Linked DNA regions of Homo sapiens. The protein of the gene in region 1 interacts with the protein of each later gene in a biochemical or structural test. Each region holds a gene or a part of one and is shown on either strand. Other genes may lie near its edges.

Region 1 (3,500 bases):
GAATTGTGGTGGCTCATGCCTGTAATACCAGCACTTTAGGAGGCCAAGGTGGGCAGATCACAAGGTCAGGAGTTCTAGACCAGCCTGGCCAACATAATGAAACCCCATCCATCTCTACTAAAAATACAAAAAAAAATTAGCTGGGCGTGGTGGTGCACACCTGTAGTCCCAGCTACTAGGGAGGCTGAGGCAGAAGAATCACTTGAACCCAGGGGGCGGAGTTGTGATGAGCTGAGATCGTGCCACTGCACTCCAGCCTGGGTAACACAGCAAGACTCCATCTCAAAAAAACCCAAAAAAACAAAAAACCTTTGCTTATTAAGTATAAAGTGATATTAAACTGGTTATTAAAAATATGAAGTGGCTGGCCAGGCACAGCGGCTCACGTCTGTAATCCCAGCACTTTGGGAGGCCAAGGCAGGCAGATCACCTGAGGTCAGGAGTTTGAGACCAGCCTGGCCAACATTGTGAAACCCCATCTCTACTAAAAATACAAAAAATCAACCGGGTGTGGTGGCAGGCACCTGTAATCCCAGCTACTTGAGAGGCTGAAGCAGAATTGCTTTAACTCGGGAGGCAGAGACTGCAATGGGCCAAGATCGCACCACTGTACTCCAGGCTGGGTGACAGAGCGAGACTCCGTCTCAAAGAAAAAAGAAGCAGAACAAATCATAATCAACTGCCCAGCTATATATCCTAGTAGCTCATCTTTATTTTACATCATGTAGTGGGGGAAATGATCAATGTGACCACATGCATCTCTGGTACTCAGATGATGTATTGGCAACACTGCACCACAAAACGCTGTTTTAAACCATCTTACCTCAAGCTTGTGAGCCCTCTCCCTGCTCAGGGGCTCCAAGGGAAAGCTCAGGTTGTTCGCTTCTGCCAGAGAACGAAGATCAAAATAATACTTGGCATAGACACTGGAAGGAACATTGATGTTGAACTGCAGCAATTCAAGAAACTGTCGCTCTAGCTCGTTCCTGCAAAGCAAAGACAAAAATAGCCTATGCTTAGCTGCCACACCAGGCCACGTGGCCTGCCAAGGCAAGTTGCTGGAGACCAGACTCCAGAAAACTGCATCCTCCAGGAAGACCAGTGATCTAAGTAAATGTCTGGTTAGACCACCATATTGGGATTAAAAGCCAAATCCACTTGATCTGGTGCCCAGAAGGATGAGGACTGGTTAACTGGGATCATCACCAGGAAGCGTTTCAGGGCGAATCACTTCACTGAGATCTAACACACACACAGCAGGCTCTGGCTGCAGGTCTCCGTGAGGACAGGCTGCTAACAAAGGGTGGATGCAGCAGCCAAGAGCTGCCACGTGGAGTCCAGTGAGGGCCCTTCCGCAGGGGCCCAGAGGAAAACACTCAGCCTCTGCAGACCTAGAGGACATTGGCTTCCTCGGTGGCCCCTCCCTACCTCCAGGGAGAAAAGAAGGGAGGAACTGTGTAGGGGCTTTCTTAGGCAAAAGGCAGGGATTATGGGGGGAGGGTGTCCAGTCTCTGCCTCAGTCTCTTAAAAAGAGAACTCACAAGCCGGGAAGAATGGAAGCAGTAGTTTCCACACTTGAGCACGCACCCCATCACCTGGTGGGCTTGTTAGAACAGACAGGGGGCTCCACCTTCACACTGTGGGGATCAGTAGGTCTGCAGTGGGGCCTGAGAATGTGCATTTCTAAGGAACTCCCAGATGATGGTGAGGCTGAGGCTCTTGCCCCGGGCCCACACTCTGAGAACCACTCAACTAAAAAGGTAGGTTGGGAGAGGAGGTGCTAAGATCCACCCTGCCAACCCATCTACATGTTGATGGAATGCTGGGAGAAATTCAAAAACTTCTACTTTAAGAACTTCTCATGTCAGCTATCTTTCAAATTAGGTTTATTTCTAGATAGTTCCTCTGGGTGGGGGGAACCTTCTCAGTGAGGGAACTATCTGTGGAGCACTGGTCCTGGGTCATGCACTCAGATTCAGCACGTTCTCCCCAGGAAGCCCCCAGGGGTGCCCACCCACAGGGTGCCCACCCACTGCACACCCTCCAGGAAACCTCCTGTCCTTGCCCACACTATGCAGCATGTGGCTGCTGAACTCAGCCTCTTGGGCTGTTCTCCTCATAGTCAGGAAGTGCAACATCTGCTTTTGCATGCCTGGCCCCCAGCACATGATCTCAGAAGGCTTCCCACAGCAGTGAGAGCTGAACTGAGGTGAGGGAAGCATGGAGCTCTGGCGGAGAGGAACCAGGGCTGAGGAGGGGGTGTTTCAGGCAGAGTGGGTCCCCTCCAACCTGCTGCAGGCAGCCAAAACACACAGTCACCATTTCCTGTGAGTGAAGCCAGGGCCCTAGTGCAGGGCCTCACCCTCCTGACCCTGATCCCAGCCTCGGCATTCTAAGTCATGTCCTGCCAACTCTGCTGAACGCTGAGGGTCTGGGTCTGAGCCTCACATGCAGGCACCATCCTGTCCTGAGTGATGTCCCGAGACCCCTATGGCTGTTCCCGGTGACTCATAGCACTCAGCTATGAAGGACTGAGGAGGGCTCCACACCAGCTCAAGTTGCTGTGACAAAGGACAAGAACAGTAAGGAGGCGGGTGGGGAGGCTGGGGCTGAGCAAGGCCAGTGGCTCTGGGGAGACATGAAGCTGCTGGGGAAAGGAGCACTGGGACCTGTGGGCAGGCGGCAAGGAAGGAGGCCCGAGGAAGGCCCATTCCGGTCTCTTCATCAGATGAAGAGCGTCACTGCTTGTTTCCACACAGCCTCGTGAAAAGAGTGATAACAAGCTCCAAATGTATTTACTGTACTAAATTTCATAGTTTTAAGAATTTAGGCTGGGTGTGGTCACTCACACCTGTAATCTCAGCACTTTGGGAGGCTGAGGCGGGTGGATCACCTGAGTTTAGGAGTTTGAGACCAGCCTGGCCAACAGGGTGAAACCTCGTCTCTACTAAAAATACAAAGAAAATTAGCCGGGCATGGTGGCACATGCCTATAATTCAAGCTACTCAGGAGGCTGAGGCAGGGGAATCACTTGAACCCGGGAGGTGGAGGTTGAAGCGAGCCAAGATTGCGCCATTGCACTCCAGCCTGGACTACAAGAGCGAAACTCTGTCTCAAAAAAAAAAAAAAAAAATTAGTCAGGCATGGTGGTGGGCACCTCTAATATCCCAGCTACTCAGGAGGGTGAGGCAGGAGAATCACTTGAACCCAGGAGGCGGAAGTTGCAGTGAGCCGAGATTGCCCCACTGCACTCCAGCCTGGGCAACGAGAGCGAAACTCTGTCCCAAAAATAAATAAATAAATAATAATTTACTTTGATTTGGGATAATTTTTACTTAAAACAACTTTTATTTATGCTTCATTTAAATGAGATTTAATAAGAGATCATCCTGTGAAATACTGGAATCCAGGTAAGACTTCAACAAAACGAAAGCGTCAGAGGCCCTGCTAAGGCCAGAACTGTCAAACGTCAAAGGAGCAAATCCCAAGTGAACCTGGGA
Region 2 (3,500 bases), on another chromosome or scaffold:
GTCTTTGTTCTCATTATGGAGTGTGTGCGCCAGGGGTGGGTTGGGGAAGCCTGGGGCAGATGGGATGGGGGTGTGTACCTTCCCGGATGGCGGTGCAGGGTGCCCCCTCTTCATGTTCCAGTCTGATCTCCTTGAGTGCCACAAGGTTGTCTGTGAGCTTGCTTTTGCCTTTGTAGACGGTGGCATAGGTACCCTGGAATGTGAGGAAGTGTGACAGGAGAGGTGCTATGAGATTCCAGGAGTTCCCACTGACCTTCATCCCCACCATGGGCCTCCTATTTGCCTCTCACCTCGCCCAGTTTGTCCAGCTTAATGTAGGTCTCCAGTTTCCCAAAGCCAATCTCAGACTGTGGGACAAATGAGGCAGGTTAAAGCTGGCTCAGGAGAAGGGTCTGGGAGAGAAGAAAAAGGAGAGGACGGGAACAGAAGGTGCTTACTAGGCTGACACGACGGAGGCGGCGGCTGAGGGGCTTGTCAAAGATGGGGCTATTGAGGGTCAGCTTCTCCAGGTAGCCCTCAGGCAGCCGGATGTCAGCTGGTAGTGATAGGCGCTTGTTGATGTCCTAGCAGGTAAGGCAAGAGAGAAACAGGATCATGAGCTCCACCTCCCCAGGTCCAACCCCCTTTTCCAGTTCCTCCACCATCCAGACGGGGTCAAGCACCTCAGTGGAGATCTTGCGTGGGGGATGGTTGCGCATACGCACTCTCACTGGAGACTGCACCTCATCCGAGGACGTGGCTGAAGCCTGGTCACTCTCCCCATCAGACCCCATCTTCAAGTCCTCGTGCACAATCTCTGGTGGCAGGGAGAGGGGTAGGGCAGGCCAGGTGGGGTCAGGAACCACAGGACACCCCATCCCCCACGAAACATATTCCATCATCACACATGTGTGCACGTGGCCCCCACAGGAAACCTGGAGTCCCTCGGGGAGAGGGTGATGTACCTGAGCCCAGGGAAGCTCAGGTACATCTAGGGCAGGTTGAACTGGGGGGTGGGGAAGCAAAAGTCACCTAGTGGAACCCTTCCTTCCAAGGGCAAGCTGAGCTCAGAGCCGGCAGCTAGGTGGTGGCAGGGGAAGCCAAGGGTCCTGGGAAGGCAGGCCCAGGGCAGGCAGGTACCAGAGGACTGAGGAGGCCATCATAGAGGGCAGAAGGGCAGAGGGAGCCTTGGGGCAGCTGTGACAGGCAAGGCACCTTCTGTCCCCCACCACGGGGCCTGGGCAGAAAGGCAAGAAGAGGAGCGCAGATGGACAGATAGACAGACGGTGTTGAGAGAAGATGGGAGGGAAGGGGGAGAAGAGAGCACATGGGGGGCAGAGAAAGGGCAGAAAATTTAGAGGAAAATGAGGAATGTGACCAGGAGGCAACACCTGGGAAGCAGCCTGGGGCCATATGGGAGAGGGGATAGCCAGTGGACCCACCTGGTGCAGAGCTGAGTGGGCCCCGTGCAGAACGAAGTTCCCCAGGAGCAGCACGTGTGGGGGCCTCTCCAGGGTCACTGCCGCCACCACCACCACTCTCATCCAGGCCTATCTGCTCAGGGGCACCATTGGTCTTGTCTATGCCTCGGCCACCTCGGAGTGTCATTGACAGCTGCCGTTTGATCTTCTTCATCCGATCCATGGCGATCTGAGCAAGGGACAAGGATGGAAATGGGTCTCTTATTAGCATTTGCTTGATCACCATGGGTTCCCTAAAGCCCACAGCCTAGCAGGGGGCACTGACATGAACTTGTCAGTGCTCACTCAACCACTATGGACCCCAGAGCCACTCAGGAGTTCTGGAAACCCAGCATGGATGGGGATCTTTGTCAGTACCTGCCCACCCACACAGCCAGCCCCACTGGGACCCTGCTCCTACGTAGCCCACCTGAGTTCTCAGATTTAGGTGGCTGATTGAGGGCAAGGGCCCTAACGATGGATTGTTGGGATCTAGGGGAAAAGCCCCACTGCAGGAGCAGAAGGCTCCATTGCAGATCTTCTCAGGTACAGCTGCAGTGATGGGCCCAGCCATGGGTCGGCCAGGGCGTGTGCCCAGAATTGAAGGATGGGTGACATGGTCTCGAGCACGGCCATAGAGTGGCATAGTTCCCCTAGCACCACCCTCAAAGGCCAAGGCAGACTATTCCCTGTGGCCACAGGGACCCTCTTCCTGACTTCTCTAGCACTCATCGTCATGACAACCACTGCATCATCCCATTCATCTACCCAGGTGGGGGGGGGGAGGGGAGCGTGTGTCAGGGTGTCCTGCCCAGACCCAACCACTGGGTGGGATTGTGTGGAGGGCGGGGGGGTCTCAGTGTACACCAGCTCTTCTCAGGGCTGCCAGAACGGTTTGATCAGGTTAGGACCCCTAGGGTCCAATCTAGACTTTTACAAGCCAAGTCACATTTCTCCTCTACTCAAGAATGTACATTTTTCATCACCCCAAATACACGCCCCAGTCCTCAATGTGGCCCACAGGTGTTTCTTTACCTCATTTGCCCCTATTGCCTCTTGCCCACGGCCCCCCCCCACCCCCACACCCCCCCGCCATCATTCCTAGTTGCTGTTCTGCAACCACACCCAGTAGAGTCCCACCTCGGGGCCTTTACACTGGCTGTTCCTGGTACCTGGAACACCCTTCCCCTAAATTTCGAAATGGCTCACTCCCCTCTCCCTTTGGGCCATTGCTCAAAGGTCACCTTTTTCATGAGGCCTCTGTGAATAACCCTATTTAAAATCTCAACCATCCCGAACTCCCTCACCTTGCCAGTTATCCCCCCAGCACTCATTACCTCCTCAGAAATGACACCACCTACTTATTGGTTTCTTTAGTCTTTACTGTCTATCTCCTCACCGCCACAACTAGAAGATCAGCTCCGCCAGGGTAGATTTCTGTGTTTAGGTCACGGCTATATCCTGAGGACCTGGAATAGTGACTGACACAGAGTAGATGCTCAAAAAGTGCTTATGGCAGAAATAAGTGAATCAGGGGGCTGAGGGCCTAGGACCAACCTCTGCTGAGGTGATGAGTCCCTGCTATTCATTGAACAACCCTAAACAAGGTAGCCCAGGGATGCTGGCATCGACAGGAAGATGACCTAGATGGATTGCTGAAGGGAATGGGGCCACCAAAAGGCTTAGGCCAGCCGTCTTCTGCTTCCTCTTGGGCTCTGGGCCAGCAAGGAGGGGGAAAGACCTGACCCAGGAACCATCTGGACTCACAGCAGGGCCTAAGATGGCCCTGGGCCCAAGGGAAGTAGAGCTAGATAGGAGGTCGAGGATGAGACTGGGGCTGGATTTGAGGAGAGAAATGGGTCATCTGCTACCTTGAAATCAGGTGCTTCCCCCAGCAGTTCTCGCCCCCACCTGGCTGAACTCACTATCCCCAGGAGGGGTAGGGGCCACCCTAGCAGAAAGACCTCAGATACAGGATGAGGTCCATCCATGGAGAACCCAGGATAACCACAAAACATCCTGACCTGGGAGGCTGAATACTGGGCCTAAGGCAAGGAAGGT

What was found.
Region 2: of the proteins of CCNY (region 1) and CDK16, one has a biochemical effect on the other in vitro, tested with the Homo sapiens proteins (one study listed by IntAct).

The regions. Positions count from the first base shown.
Region 1 is NC_000010.11:35,563,509-35,567,008, reverse strand, and holds part of CCNY (cyclin-Y), read right to left. Parts: intron 987-3,500; coding exon 824-986; intron 1-823. UniProt on the Homo sapiens protein: Positive regulatory subunit of the cyclin-dependent kinases CDK14/PFTK1 and CDK16.
Region 2 is NC_000023.11:47,221,681-47,225,180, reverse strand, and holds part of CDK16 (cyclin-dependent kinase 16), read right to left. Parts: exon of another isoform or gene 2,921-3,500; coding exon of another isoform or gene 2,839-2,920; exon of another isoform or gene 2,801-2,838; intron 2,131-2,800; exon of another isoform or gene 2,086-2,130; coding exon of another isoform or gene 1,870-2,085; intron 1,630-1,869; coding exon of another isoform or gene 1,624-1,629; coding exon 1,422-1,623; intron 797-1,421; coding exon 663-796; intron 564-662; coding exon 438-563; intron 348-437; coding exon 291-347; intron 194-290; coding exon 79-193; intron 1-78. UniProt on the Homo sapiens protein: Protein kinase that plays a role in vesicle-mediated transport processes and exocytosis. Regulates GH1 release by brain neurons. Phosphorylates NSF, and thereby regulates NSF oligomerization. Required for normal spermatogenesis.